Linked DNA regions of Homo sapiens: region 1 is linked to region 2. The links come from fine-mapping of genetic effects on gene expression. Tissue or cell type: whole blood. Region 2 holds a variant in brackets; the other region holds the start of a gene. All regions are shown on one strand. Distances are from middle to middle.

The links. PIP is the estimated chance that this variant, and not a neighbour inherited with it, causes the effect.
Region 1: MAP3K1 starts here. The variant in region 2 is fine-mapped to the expression of MAP3K1 in whole blood (INTERVAL, PIP above 0.99).

Annotation. Positions count from the first base shown.
Region 1 is chr5:56,812,412-56,820,518 of GRCh38, forward strand. It overlaps MAP3K1 (mitogen-activated protein kinase kinase kinase 1), which reads left to right and starts at 3,138. Exons shown (of 20, transcript NM_005921.2): 1 at 3,138-3,644. The coding sequence starts at 3,163. RefSeq lists enhancers at 2,366-2,495, 3,947-4,770 and silencers at 2,856-3,625, 3,696-3,815, 3,996-4,235, 8,031-8,107.
Region 2 is chr5:56,666,326-56,674,432 of GRCh38, forward strand. No RefSeq gene overlaps it. Among named protein-coding and RNA genes, the nearest start is that of C5orf67, 64 kb to the left of the region's middle. RefSeq lists a silencer at 3,877-4,171 and an enhancer at 4,121-4,170. The variant T/TA (reference allele first, on the strand shown) is at 4,126.

The sequences.
Region 1 (8,107 bases), 150 kb after region 2:
TCCCACTGATGACAGGATTTTCTGACTTAGAACATCTGAAAACACCTGGGAAGTATGTTGTCTGGAAAGAACATGCAGAAACCAAATTCTAGCCCCAGCACTCCTGCAAGTATTCCATAATAAATATTTGTAAGCTTGAAAGAACACCAGCTTTTACCCTATTCTCAAGGTTATATTATTCTTTTATGTTTATCTGAGGTATAGATCTCACAAACAGCCATGAATATGTGAATACATTCACATACTGATGGATCTGGAATTCTACCAGTCAGCCTGATAAATACCCACTAATAAAAATATCTGTAGATTGGAATATTTTGTTTATTCATTTTTGTAGAAATGAAAAACAACAAACAATATCCTCAGAGAAGAAAAATTCCTGCATATGCACAGTAGGTGCTTACTAAATATATGATGAATGATGTACAGGCTGAAATATTTCTCCCAATGTATATTATGTCTGCTCATTCTAATATTTGTGATATTTATGTACAGTGAGGAAATGCCCAGTGTCAAAGTGGATCCTCAACGTGAATATGCTGCAGGAACTGAAGTGTGATGTAGGCAGTTTCCAGAAGCACTATGTGGAGGCAGTGATCTGTAATGCACTGGTATTAAGGTTATTGAAATGGTCATGAAATTGCCATGAAATTGCATGCGTGAAATCATTGCAAGGTTTACGTCCCAGTGAGGATGGAAATGAAGAGCTTGGAAACAGGAATTGGAGCTTTCAGTCTAGAAACAACCTTGGAAGAAATACAAGTCTCCTGAATGTTATTAAATAAATCATATTAAGAGAATTCAGAGCCTACAGTACTTGATATTTGACATCCACCTCTCTGCAGTAACATAGCAGGACTGAAGAGCACCAAAACCAGCTAGAGTCTTAATCACGCATTAGACTCAGAAACTTCTATTAACATATGGCAGAGGGAGAACACCCTTTTCAGTTAAGCATGTCCTTTGATTCTCTCTTTAAGAAATCAGTGTGTCCATATGCAGATGCATAATGACAACCTGAATATTTACGTAAACAAAGAAAAAAATGACTCAAAGCAACAAAAACTGTGGGAAAATACCAACACTTAGGTTTCTCCATGGTAATACGTGGTGGATGGAGGAAGTGAGAGAATTGTAGCTAGTTCATAGTGCTGCGCTGGGTAGCCCTCTCCCTTTGATCCCCAGTTTCAACCACTGTACAAACAGTCAAAAATCAGTTTTGCTGGAATCTCCTTTTTACTCTGCTACTCTGGCTAAAGTCTTCCACTTACTTTTCTCACTTACAGGTACCTGAATATGTGCGTGCAAATGTAAAAGTCTTTAGATCAAAATAGGAACAAGGAAAGTTTATCCGTTTCAGTTTAGGATTTGGTGGGTGTGGCAACCCAGGAAGACCTGAGAAATAACCACTGTTTGGTTTGAATGATACATTTGACTGCCATTAAAATAGCATATAATTATAGCCTAAATGTAGACTTAATTTTTAACAGATTTATCTGAACTTTCAAAATTTGTACCGTTGGGTGTAACGATCTAAAACTATCTTATGGGAGATGTTACAGCAGTTTTCAAATCATTGAGCTAATATGAAATCTGGACTTTTTAAAACCCCTCTGATCTAACCTGGTTACGCAGTTAACATTGTATCTGGGAAAGGGGCTTTCATTTTACCTAGTCTCCAGAAGTCAATGGAATTATTCTGTAAATAGTTCAGGCTTTTGTCTAAATATGTGAAGACTGACAAGACTATCTCCGTGAGAATCCGCACCCCCCCACCCCAACCTCCCCCCTCCTTAATCATGTTTCACAAAGTAAATCTATAGACGTTCCTCCTGGGTTTTGGGAGATTCCCCATCCTAAACAAACCAGCTGGAGGAAAGGAAAGGAAGGAAGAAATAAACGCAACACAGAAGTTCTCCTCAGTTGACAAAAGGTCAAAAATCATTAACGTGTAAATGTTGCTTTTTCCATCCCAAAGCACCTTCTCACGTAGAGTCCAGGGACTAGGAGGACTCACAACGCAGCGATGGGCAGCCAGGCCCTGCAGGAGTGGGGACAGAGGGAACCCGGCCGGTGGCCCGACCCTGCAGGGAAGAAGGACGTGCGGCGAGAAGCATCGGATTCGGGGAGGGCCGGGACCTGGCCGAGGGTGACATTACCGAGCACTTCCTGGCACAGCGCTGGTCCCCTCCCCAAACGCGCTATATGTGGTTCTGTACGGGACTGCCTTTCCCAAAGACAGCCAAGGAAAAACTAAAGATCGACGGGGACACCCGCCTCCCTTCCTCGCCCCAACGGTTTCTCAGAGGCTGTGGGGACTTGGTGAGGGTAGGGGGTAGTTGTCCCAAATCAGCAGCTTCAGGATGTAAGGTATTACAGAAAACTTTGAAGTTTTGTTATCTGTAGCACAGGGACAGGGGTGGGACAATAGAGAAGGAATGTTTTCTTTTCAAAAGAAAACACAAACAAAACTTTATTTTTCTGGTCCGCGGCAGCCTGTCTGCTGAACGTTGACTTGCTTTCGCTTTGCAGCAGGCGACGGTCCCGGGCGCCACCTGCGCGTCGGTGGGAGGCTGGTCCACGCCCGGGTCCCCCGACGCCCACTGCAAAGGGCAGTGGGAATGACAGACTGTAAACCCTCTCGCCTGCGTCCCCTTCAAGCACCAGAAACCCAAGTTGGAACTAATTCTTTCTTTCGGAAGGTGCAACTCCCCTCCCGCGAGCTCCGCGGTGCCGGGCCGAGATTGCCGAGAGGAAGCGGCGCAGCGCTGCCGCCAAGGCTCCTCCTGTCGCCGGTGCGGCCGGGACTACCTGGCGGCGCGGCGCGTGCAGCGCGCAGAGTCCCGGGAGCCCACGCCTCCGCCTCCGCCCCCGCCCCCTCCGCCTCCCAGTCCACCTCGCCCGCCCGCCCTCTCGCCCGGCGGAGAGCACAGCCCACTCCCTCCCACCTGCGGCCGCCGGGCCGCCCTCCACCCACACCTCTGCCGCAGGCCGGACCCAGTGCGCCCGCCCGTCGGTCAGTCCAGGCCAGGCGCCCGGCGGGCCGCGCTCACGCAGTTGGCGCAGGAGGCCTTACGCTGGCGGCGCAGTGCCCGCCCCCTGCGCTCTCCCCGCCCCCTCCCTCCCTCGCAGGGGCCGAGCGAATGTAGCCCGCGAGAGAAAATGGCGGCGGCGGCGGGGAATCGCGCCTCGTCGTCGGGATTCCCGGGCGCCAGGGCTACGAGCCCTGAGGCAGGCGGCGGCGGAGGAGCCCTCAAGGCGAGCAGCGCGCCCGCGGCTGCCGCGGGACTGCTGCGGGAGGCGGGCAGCGGGGGCCGCGAGCGGGCGGACTGGCGGCGGCGGCAGCTGCGCAAAGTGCGGAGTGTGGAGCTGGACCAGCTGCCTGAGCAGCCGCTCTTCCTTGCCGCCTCACCGCCGGCCTCCTCGACTTCCCCGTCGCCGGAGCCCGCGGACGCAGCGGGGAGTGGGACCGGCTTCCAGCCTGTGGCGGTGCCGCCGCCCCACGGAGCCGCGAGCCGCGGCGGCGCCCACCTTACCGAGTCGGTGGCGGCGCCGGACAGCGGCGCCTCGAGTCCCGCAGCGGCCGAGCCCGGGGAGAAGCGGGCGCCCGCCGCCGAGCCGTCTCCTGCAGCGGCCCCCGCCGGGTGAGCAGCACGGCCGGGGTCGCGGCGGGGACTTGGAGAGCGGGCAGAGGGCAATGAATGAACCCCGGGCACCATGCACGGCGTCCCGGGGTTCAGCGCAGCGAGGCTACGCGCCGCTCGCCGGGACCTACGCCCCTGAGCACCCCCCGACCCCTTCGGAGTCGGGCGGCGCCCCGGACCCAGCCTGGGGGACCGGACGGGGACGTGCGGAAGAGTTTGTTATTGTTTGCAGACATGTGACAGGCGTGCGAGCCTCTCTGCGGGGAACCGTTGCGAAAAGGTGTAGGGGGCCACGGCTGGCTTTGTGGGACTCCTGGAATCGGGGCTCTCCGAGGAGCCCGGGGGCGGGGCACGGCCCTGCGGCGGCGCCCCCGGACGGGTGTCCCCGGGGCAAAGGCACTGGGGGGCGAGGCCCGAGCCTGAGGCGGGCGGTGGTCGGAAGAGGGGCGGGGTGGGTGAGAAGCCCGAGGTCGGGTGGGAGACTGAGAGGACCGAAGAGAAAGTAGCAGGTCCCAGCGGCCGTGACAGGCAGAGCCCCTCGGCCCGCCCGGGACTCGAGTCCCTAGGCAGATACCGCGGGCTGGGCCCGGACGCAGGCGGCGCGCCCCCAGCGCCGGCCGCAGGGCTCCAGGAGGACGGCTCGGTAACGCCTGTCAAAGCCGTGCGGCGGGAGGCTGCACACTCGCGGAGGCTTGCAGTCTTTTAGGAAGTGCGGTTTGTCTAATTGCAGCCCCCAAGGGGCTTTGAGTGTTCCTGGGAATGCGAACTGCACTGCTAAGTCACTTGAGTGACTTCTGTTTGGAGTTTGAATTTGGCCTTTGAAGTTTGCATTTGGCGGAGTGGTGTAAGAGCCAGGACCGGATGTGTCAGCCATTCAGTTTCAAAGCAGTGGTGACTGCTCCCCGCAGCCCCTCCGGCTTGGCCCGGGGACTGCGGCGCGGGTGCAGTGCTTCCTGCTCGGTGCCCTGGCGCGGGCCGCCCGCTGAATTCCAGGGGCCGCAGTGCGGTGGGCTTCGGCTCAGATGCGTCTTCTGGTGCATATGAAGTACAGTATGTGTAAGGTAATTTAGACCAGCGGTTTATTGGCCTCGCCCATTTTTGGCTACTGGAAATTTTTATGTTAAAGGAAATTCTTTTAAGTGTGACAGCTACATCCTTGTTTGTTTGTTTTTTAAAAACCTGATTAACGTATGCAAAGTACAAAGTCTTGATGGGTATTTTGAGTTGCTGGAAATGTTTTTGTGATAGTCCCTCGTGGCCCTGTAGAATTCCCTGACCTTTATTATGAGAAGAAAGCGTGTCATTTTGTGAGACGAATTTGACAGTAGGAGTCCTTGGTTTGGATTCATTATCTAAAGTGATCTGGCATTTTTTGTGCATTTGATTATTTGCTTAAAATCACGATCCATTTAGTATTTGGAAGTCCCCTTCCTCTCCCCAAGAACTAAAAAATATGCTTCGCACTGTACCATGGCACTACTGAGACCAAAGGAGATTTGTGACTGATACAGTTTTGTGTGCACTTGTACATGTAATTTATTCTTACAAGAGTTATGTACCTCTATAGTTTTCCCATTTCTGTGCAGATTGTATTAAAACTTAACTGGAATAATTCTTTGAAGGCAACTTCTACTTTAAATGAATTCCAGATAAAAATTTTTAACCCCAAATTTAAGAAATTGTATCTATTGAGACCTAACTTTTTGGATACAATAAATAATTTAGCAAACGTCAGCATTCTAGTACTCTTAATGAGCTGTGAATATAGTAGAAGAGCATCCACTGTAAAAATAATGTACTGAAATTGTTTAATGTTGTCTCTTGACACAAAATAAGAGGACTAAGGTGGAGGCAGATAGAATTTAGGGACTAAGTAATCCATGCTTAGTATTTGCGTTTTGTAACCGAGGTTTTTTCCCCTTTGCTTAAGGTGTAGATTATAATTGCACAGTATAAGAAAATAATGGGCTTGTAAGGATAATCTTTTTTAAAGAAATTATTTTTACGAGTCAGAATGCTGTTGGTTTATCCCAAATGTCATACGTAAAGATTTCATTTATAGTAAAATGTTGATTCCCTAACCTTATGAAATATAGTGAATTTTTTTTTCTTAACAATTGGGTTGAAATTCATTTGAATCTGTTCGTATAAAACTTTGTGGGGAAAGGGCTTGTATCTTATTTGAGTGTGTATATTTTGTATTGCATGTTGGTTATGCTACACTATTACTTACCATTTAAAGTTTTAGGAAAAAAAACCCTTAATTATAGCCAACTCAATAAAATATCAATTGAACTTTATGTTTTACTTTTTTTTGACAGTTAAGTTACATTCATACTTCCAAGAGGAAAATCTAAGATTTTGAAATATTTGAGAGTTCTGTGATCTTTTTTTTAATTTTAGAATTTCCTTCTGATCTTTGAATGTAGAAAATATACTTTGAATTAGAATTTATATAAATAAATAATACTCGTATTTAAATAGAAGATTTTAAGTTTGTCCCTCTTTTTCAGGGTGATAGCTGAAATCAGTGAAAGTGCCTGTAAGTGGCGCCCAAGGGTTTGGAATTTTTCCTTATATTACAGAATTTAGGGGCTTTTTCTTCCTATTTACTGTCTTTGAAGAAAAATTACAGTGTTACTCTCCATTGAACAGCCTATTGTGAGTTTGGTAGATATAATTACCCCATCCTATTTTTGTAACTTAAAAAACCAAACTATCAATTTGCTGGCCCCGTGAAAGAACAAGATATGCTGTACTTGTTAATGTTAGTTTTTGTTTAAAACTAAAGGTATTTCACAGGCTGCTTTTATATCCTCATATAGCCCTCAGATTTCACTTCCTTTTTAAAGCTATTAGGCTAAAAATATGATTTAGTGACCTTTTACTAAAGAGGAGGTATAAGAGCATTATTACCTAAAAATTACTCTTAAAATATTAAGTGGGTGACTTTATAAAAATAAAGGTAGTCACATAAGTTAGTCTTCCGTGAATTTGTAAGTTTTTAGTTAAGAATGGTGTCAGTTTCATTTTAAATCAGATAAGAAAATTAATGCATTCTTCAAAGATGAACCTTAATATAATTCTGGAAGAGAAATATAAGAGCTAGAATTGTTGCCAACTTTTATTTTCTTTTCATATCTGATTTTGGCAAGAGTGACTGGTTAACCAACATTCCTTAATATACGATTTCCAATGCACTAAAACTCCATTTTGTTAGATACGAAAAACAGGAAGTAGCCCTGTTCATTGATATTCATTTACAACTTCCATAGCACCTCGAGCATAATATGTTGCATATTTTAGAAATGGCCACTGACTTGTCAACTTGCAGATTTCAAAATGTGGGAAGAAAGGAGTGTTTTTTTGCTTTCAACAAGAGCAAAAAAAAAACCAGCTACAGCTTGCCTAGGCTGAGTCGGCTAATCAGTCCTTGACACTGGCTGTGTGCATCCCAAAGGAAGAAATGAGGGGGTGGCAAGGTAGTTAATGGGGAATGGATTACCATGAGGAAAAATATGGGGCATTCAGAAATGCTCTCAGGTAGAAAGCACCTCTTTTGCATTTTGTACTCCAGTCATCTTCTTGGGTTGAGGGCTGTCTGTTACACAGAAGGCGATGGGAAAATGTGTCATGGAAAAGTAGTAGTCTCTAGAGGCTGCTTAGGAACTGCGTGTATATTACACCTCTAATCTTGGAATTCTTTGCTTCTATCAAATATATCAAGTATAGACTTGGTTGTTTTCCTTAGTCCTTGCCTCTTTCTATATCCTAAGTTAAAAGCTAAAGCAACTTAAACATGTAAATGGTAGACTATTAATGTGAGGAAATGTGTAAGATTAGGAGTAACCCAAAGTTGTCTTTAAGAAATTATTTAAGAACATGTTTAATCATGAAAGAAATAATCAGGGCCGGAATTAGTAAATGGTTCATTGCAAAGCATGAGATTAGTCAGATACTCTTTTCAGTTTGCAAAAATATATTAGGATTTTATCTGTGGCTTAAAACATACTCATTGAGCATATAGATATGCCTAGATACCTTTTACATAATCAACTCTTTTGCCTTCTGTGTGTGTGTATGATATCTATTATATGTATTATATATATGTTTATATATAATCTCATTTGATCATCACTGCAGCCCCCTAAGATAGTGTAATTTCTGTTTTCTGTAGGTGCAAACTCATCTGAGATGGTAAAACCTCATGATTACACAACTAGAAGACAGCTAGGATTCAATCCCAAGTCAGACTGACTCCACAGTCCATTTCTTTCCACTACTCTGCTTCTTCCATTTTCTTTTTTCAAATTAATAATCAAATTAATTGATTATTTTTAAGGAGAAATTTGTTTTGCAGGCATTCTAATAGACCATGAGCTAGGTCTCTACCCTGTGCTAAGTTTGCCTGTTAATGTATATAATAGGTATGTTTCTGTAACCTGGCCTTGTATATGTAATAC
Region 2 (8,107 bases):
ATGATTCAGCTCAAACCTCACTCATGTAACCCTCCATGCCCCTACCCCATGTTCCCTTCCCACTGTGCAGCTGATCGCGTTCTCCACCTCCAGCCTATAATGCTTCGTACAAACCTTTTTTAGTCCTTCTCACATCTGTATGAGTCAGGTCTCAGAAACCTCATACTGAAGAGTGTTTAAAACAGAGACTCTTTACAAAGAAGCAGAGTATAAGGAGACTACAAAAGTTAGTACATACCGCTGGGCAAATTAAGAGGAGCTCTATTACTATCCCTAGGCTGGAAAGGTAAGAGGAAGAAGTAGTTCTCAGAGCTTGGAGGGAGAAGAAGAGGGATGCTTCACAGGAACTGCAACCTTGAGTAGAGGAATGTAGCCAGTCTGGAGCAAACCCTCAGGAAAGGAGCCACTGGAAAAGCCCTGAGTTTGGCTCTTCCTCCCTCCTTCCAATTATCTGCTGGTGCTGGAGGGAACTCCAGCTGGAATCCAGGGTCAAGGGAGCCCTTTCCTGTGGTCCATACAGGGCAGCCTCCAAGGGAAGAAAGTGGACCTTTCCCTTGGAGGGACAAACCAAAGACTGGCCACAACAACGTACTGTCGTGATTGATTCGCAGGCATGCCAAGTGTCTGCTGCCTAAGAGATTCCCTTTAATTTTACAAAACACTAGAGCTCAAGGCTGCACCCTCTGTACTTCAGAATATCCAGAGCCACCCACCCACGCAGTCCTCTCCCTTCTCCTGAGGCGGTCCTTGCTACATCCTTCCTGGTTTCTACATCTTTCCTACTCTCTCATTAGCCCACTTCCTGGACATGCTGGACAACACCCTTCTTCCGTCCTATTTCTCAACTCAGCATAAATTCAAGGGTTATTGTATGTATCAGATTTCTAACTGAAGGATAGTGGGTAAAGGGGGATAAAAGGCAACACAGAGTGAGGAACAACTTCAAAACCCTTATTAGATACCTCTTTCATAAATATTCACAAACCATTCTCCACTATGAAGACTTTCTCAGCTATGTACCACCATCTTCTAGAAACCCAGGCTCCTTCCACAGACTTCTTTTTTCCCTCTATTGACAGCCTTCTAAAACCCTAAATTCTGTTCTACTCTTTTTTTGTCTAAACTTTATTATTTTAATATTTATATTTTAGCATAAAATTTTATATTTCAATATAAAATATTACATTAATATTAATATTAAAATAGTTTACTATTTTAATGCAATTGTCTTTAAAATCAAATTGGCAAGTTTTTTTAATGTTCTTTTTTAAAAACTTTTTCATTTCAATAGTTTTTTGGGGGAAAAGGGGTGTTTGGTTACACAAATAAGTTCTTTAGTGGTGATTTCTGAGATTTTGGTGCACCCATCACCCAAGCAGTGTACACTGTACCCTATGTGTAGTCTGTTATACCTCGCCACCCCCCCATCCCTTGGTGACAATGGCTTTATAGTACAGTTTGAAGTTCAGTAATGTGATGCCTCCAGATTTGTAATAAAATTAATATTAATAAATAGTAATATTAAAATTAATTATGCTAATTAATATTATTGTGATATTTTATATTTTAATATAAAATATTCAATTATATTAATATTAAAATATTCTAATATTTTAATGCTATGCTTTTAAAAATCAAATTACAAGTTGTATAAAATTTTAATAGAACCAGGGCCAAGATTAGGGGGAGGAAAGTGAGGAAAGGGTATATACACATGCAGGATCAGATCCTCTCTTTATTTTAAATTTTCATCCTTTGTTCATCAGGGATTTTGTTTTCATTAATTTTGATTTTTAAAAGACTACTTTATAGTGCAGTTTATCTTAACCACGAAGTTTTTTGACATCCCCCTCGACCCCTTTTTTTTTTTTTGTATCCCAGGCAAGTGCCTCACTCAATATCACCTTAGTTATGGCCCTGCCAGTTGAGGGGGCTCAGGGAAAAAGACTTATCTTTCTACATTAAACATGTCAGTTTAGAAGCTCTTCCAAACCAAAAGGTAAGTTCTTTTCCCAAGCAGAATTTTGTCTTCAAACTCCTGCCAATTTTGAGAAGAATTTTTTTCTTGTGACCCCTCCCTCATTAGGCTATGAGATCCTTCAGAATAGAAAATGATGCTGTATCCGCTTCCATAGCCCCAGCACCCAGACTTGGTAGATGAATTATAAATATTTACTGCATACAAGGATCCAGTGCAGAGCTTTGTAAATTCCATTTGTTATTTGTTGAATATATTCACAGGTTTTCTTTTTATGTTAAAATCAAACATCTTAGAAAACCAGCTGGCAAGTACCTGAAGACATCATTTAATCTAATCTTTTCATTTTGTACATTGGGAAGCTGAGGCCAACCTCCATGGTTATACTTGCAGGCAAGTTGCTTAGAGTTTATCCAAAAAAATGATATTTCTGATTGTCAGGGTACTAAATAATTTTGGTAGCATCCCAGTAAGCAGAACAGAGTAAAATTCTCCCAGGGGTTCATGAAGCCCCTGCAATAACACAATGCTACTAATTAATTAATTAATACAATGCTGTTATTTCTGCCAACAGAAATCTCAGAATATGAAAAACACACAAGAGAGGCTAAATGGGAAAATTACTGACACCCAAGCCAATGACCTGAGTCAGAACAACTTTTATCAGAATGAAGCGCAGAAATATTAATATCAAGAAGCTGAACTTTTAAATCAAAGCCAGAAAATGTATTTGCCCAAGGTAAAGGCATGAGCAGAAGGTTTACAGAGAGAAGGACAATGATGATAAGGAAAGCTTGCTTCTTTACAATGAATGCATTGTGACAAACTCGTGAGGCACCAAGCAAGCTGACAAGGGTCCCTTCTTCCTTGCACCTAGGACAGTTTGGCTAAAGGACATCTAGGGTGACACGCCTCAGACAGTCCGCATTAATTTCACATCCTGGAATAGCCCGAAGAACCTGTCCAACCTGACTGTCAGCCTTTTCAAAATCACTTTTGGAATTCTTTGTTCAATCCTGCTTGGTTTACACTGGAACGTCTCTTCTGGGACTTCTCTGGTGACTTGATCTTTGTCCACAATGACATAGCCCAGGAGACCCACCAATACCCAGATTTGCCCAGTGGGTGACACTAATATTAGATCCAATTAGAAGTGTCAATTCAAAACAGATGAAGGACACATTTACACACAAGTCAGGGCTGCCACAAATTCATTTCTTCCTCACAATATCCTCTAGCAGAAAAAAGGGCAAACTGACCTTGAAGAAACCTCCTTTTTTTTATCGGTTACCATGGCAGCATGAACCGTCTCTCCCCAGGGCACCTGCCCATGGGTTTGCACCTGCCAGCTGGTAGCAAGAGTGCACCAGCAGCCTTGGTTCCCAGTGGCTGTGCTCACATCATCAACAAAGGTACCAGCAGTGCCAATTGGCTTCACGATATGGATACCTGCCCGCTAAGCATTGGCCTGGAGCTCGGGGACTTTCACAAAGGCCAGCCAACAGCTGGCAGGCAGGAACCTCCAGGTCATTGTCATCCTGGGCTGAATTGGAACATGCACTTGGGAGACAAAGGCTCTGTCTGTAACCACAGCATCCCTTCCTCCCTGGGTGTTTTATTTTCAGCTCTGGGTCCCCTGCTATGGGAAGGCCATGTGGCTGAAGGTGTCTTTCTTGTTTTTTTTTCCCCCCCCTCCTTTAGCATTGTCCTGCCTTGTGCATGGTGCAGAAAAGCTTTCTCTGTCCCATGTCTAGTTTTATTGCAAATCAGAGAGCTCACCATAAGTCATCCTGGGCCAGTGGGTTCAGAGGTGGAGCTGGTAACCAGAGGCCATGTCAAACTTCCTCCTCTGGCTCCATACCAAGGCCTCGGAGGATTTTTTGTCACATGAGGTTACTGTAGTTTCACATCCTCTAAAGCAAAGCTCTGTCGAAACTCTCTATTCTCACATGGCTTCAGCTCAAACAACCACCCTACTCAGCTGCCTTCCTAACCCTTTCAAGCCGTGAATCAGGAGACCTGGGTTCCAGTTTCAGCTCAGTCTGCGTGCCCCAGAGCAATGACGGGGCCTCAACTTCTTTATCATGAAAATTAAGAGGCCAAAGTACCTTTCACTCAGGTTCCTTTCAACTCTCTCTCCCCTATCT[T/TA]AAAAAAAAAAAAAAAACAACAGCTTATTTTTCCTGTTGCTTTTAGAAGAAACTCTTAACCTGAGACTCTCTAAAAATGAATAGAGATTATTGTGGTTTAAAAAATAAATGGCTACACACAGCAACCTGACTGTATCTCAAAAATATTATGGTAAATGAAAGAAGCTTCACATACAAAAGAGCTCATACTGTATGGTATTATTAACATGGAATTCAAAAATAGGCAAAACTAATCTACAGTTTTAAAAATTAGAATAGTGGTTGCCTCTGGCTGTGAGGTAGGAGCAGGGATTACCTGGGAAGGGGCAAGAAAGAATTTTCTGAGATGAAGGTTATATTTTATATCCGGTTAGGACTGGGTCACACAAGTAAGCCTTCATCAAAACTCACAGACTGCTACTCTTGAGAGGATCAATAGAGGTAATAAAGCAATTATAGCAAAATATTAATTGCAGGATCCAAGTTGTGAGTAAATGGGTATACCCTGTTTAATTCCTTCAACTTTCCTGTAATTTGGGAATCTTCATACTAAAATGTTAGAAAAAAACACGTTCTAATACATTTCAAAATTCCTGTCTCACTCATTCTCTCCTTTCTTCCATCCCCTCCCTCTTTCTTGACATGTGACCTTCTTTTCCCATTAAATGAGTCAATGGAAATGGGAATATTTATTGATTTGAGCAGTTAAGTCACCAGTGCTCTGTGATGACTAACTACTTTATCATTCATTGCCCATGGCTTTCAAGGGAAGAGGACAAGCTCTGTGCATCTTTCTCAAAGAAAGCGTTCCTACCTGTAAAAGTCTGTTAGAAAGGACTGCAGATTTAATAAGCATCTTTCAAGAGCTCTGTCCCCATTCCAACTCACCCCAACCCTCCAGCCCCAACACATTTGTTAAAAATTCACATTCAGAGATGCAGGACCCTCAACCTTGGACTTCCCAGACTCCAGAACTGTAGGACATAAACCTCTTGTCTTTACTTTAAAAAATAATAATAACATTCAGTCCCTTTTTTGAAGGTTTTTATCAGGATATCTCAAACTTAACACTGAAAGGAGGTAGCAAAATTTCTGTTTCCTCCATGTCTTTGTACTTGTAGAAATGGAGGCACAAAGGTAAGACACAGGTGTGACCAGGCCCTTCGAGTGGTTCAGCTGACTGAATATACACCTAGAGACCCTAAAACAAGCCACAGGGGTGAGAAATCAGAGAATTAGGAATGCGCAATTTAAAAGCACTGCGGTTTCCAATGTGAATTGACTGGAACTGAGGTTAAAGAAGAATTTCAGCATTTTTTGGTCACCAGTTTCTCAATGGACCATTTCCTGTCCTCTCACTGTCAAGTTTAGAGAATAAAACAAACCTCAAGGATGTATCTCTGCTCCACACCCTGTCTCAAGGCAAAGTTAGTGGTCACCAACAGCAAGATAGCACACACTGCATCTACAAATGTATGTGACATATCTTCACATTTTGTGTGTGTGTGTGTGTGTGTGTGACCACAACTTCAAAGAAACGAACAAAAGAAGCAACCAATAATCATAATGAAGAGGTTAAATTTTACCAGAGCCAATTGGGCAGAGAAAAAAAATCCAAAAACACAATGAAAACAAAGAATATTAGACCTGTTAAAAAATAATAATAAAAACCTTAGAGTTCATTTTAGTCAAACTTTTCATTTTGCAGAAAAAGAAACTGGATCTCAAATTTCCAATTTAATGAAAGTTATGTCTGAGAATATAAATCTGAGACCTGATCTCACCACCAGAAAATAGGGTTGGAATTGACCTTATAAATAATATATCTAAGCCCCTCAGTTCACTGGTGAGGAAACTGAGGTTCAAAGAAATTTCAGGGACTACTTCGAGTCCACACTGTTACTTAGTAGGACTAACTCCCATGTGTTTATGCTTCTGAGGAAGACAGCTTCGGTACCTTCCTTCCCTGTCCAAATCCTATCGGCAGCCTTTATCACTCTTTCGTTCTTTGAAATGAGCAGTTGATGTTTTTCTCATGTTCTTATACAAATAACCACCTTAATTCAGCTTAGAGACCCACATCTCCTTTCCAACCAGATTAGTATCCCTTACAGAAATTCAGGCACTGAGTCTCCCTCTGTCGCTCAGGCTGGAGTGCACAACCTCAGCTTACTGCAACCTCTGCCTCCTGGGTTCCAGTGATTCTCCTGCCTCAGCCTCCTGAGTAGCTGGGATTACAGGCATGCACCACTACGCCCAGCTAATTTTTGTATTTTTAGTAAAGACAGGGTTTCACCATGTTGGCCAGGCTGGTCTAGAACTCCTTACCTCAAGTGATCTGCCTGCCTCAGCCTCCCAAAGAGCTGGGATTACAGGCATGAGCCACTGCATCTGGCTACATCCAGGCAATTTTAAATACCTGTCTGTGTTTTATAACCACTCCAAGCTGGTCAGCCTCAAGGAAATCAACTAGGAGAGTTCAGAGTTTTTCCATGTTAAATTCTGACTCTATTTACCAAAGCAAACAAATTAAGGTACTGAAAGACTTTAGTAAACACAAATATTTTTACTTGTGGTTACAGAGGCTTTGCAAGAGCTCTTGTTCTTAGCAGTGATTATGTTGAGCCATTCATTTCATTCACGTAATAGTCTGACAAAATGTGAATGCCTACCATGTGTCCAGTACTTTCTAGGTGATGGAGACGCAGCAGGGAACAAAGTTTCTGCACTCTTGGATCTCATATCTACTGCAAGAAACAGACAAGCAATAAACAAGTATAGCCATAATATGTCAGATATTGATATGTGCCATGGGGAAAAAGAAAGTGAGAAAGTAGGTGAGTGGGTACCAGACTGCAGCAGTAAGGAAGGGTGGTTGCTAATGTCATATATAAGATGGACTCACTGATAAACAGACTTGAAAGAAATGAGGAAGCAAGCGTTGTGTACATCTGGAGGAAGCCGTTTCCAAGCAGAGGGGGAACAAAAGTAAAGGCCTGAAGTAGGAGTGGCATATTCTTGGAACAGCGAGAAGGCCAGGGTGACCAGAGCAGAGTGAGCGAGGAGACAGTGGAAGGAGATGTTGTCTTGAGGCCCAGTTGTGTGGGGCTTTGTAGGACATTGCCGGGGCTTCAGCTTTTTCTCAAAGTGAGGTGGAAAGGCATTAAAAACTGTGGAACCCAGGAGTGACATGATCTGATTTCCATTTAAAAGAATCAATTTGCCTGTGTATTGAGAAACAACTGTAGCTATCTATTATTGGCTACTACAAGACTCCAGGGATAATGGTGGCTTGGACCAGTGGTGGTAGCAGTGGAGGTGGTGAGAAGTAGTAAGATTCTTGGAGGTAGAGCTGACAGGATTTATTGATGGATTGGAAGTATGAGGAAAAGAGAACCAAGAATGACTTTCAAGGTTTTAGGTTGGAGCAATGATATGGTTTGGATCCCACCCACATCTCTCGTTGAATTGTAATCCCCAGTGTTGGAAGTAGGGCTGGGTGTGAGGTGATTGGATCATGGGAGCAGAGTTCTCATGAATGGTTTAGTACCATCCCCCCTTTGGTACTGTATAGTGGTAGAGTTATCATGACATCTGGTTGTTTAAAAGTGTGGAGCACCGGCCGGGCGCGGTGGCTTACGCTTGTAATCCCAGCACTTTGGGAGGCCGAGGCGGGCAGATCACCTGAAGCTGGGAATTCGAGACTAGCCTGACCAACATGGAGAAACCCCATCTCTACTAAAAATACAAAATTAGCCAGGCATGGTGATGGGTGCCTGTAATCTCACCTACTTGGGAGGCTGAAGTAGGAGAATTGCTTGAACCTGGGAGGCGGAGGTTGAGGTGAGTCGAGATGGCGCCATTGCACTCCAGCCTGGGCAACAAGAGCGAAACTGTCTCAAAAAAAAAAAAGTGTGTAGCACTTCCCACCCTCTCTCCTTCTTGCTCTGGTTCCAGCCATGGAAGATGTGCCGGCTTCCCCTTGCCTTCCACCATGATAGGA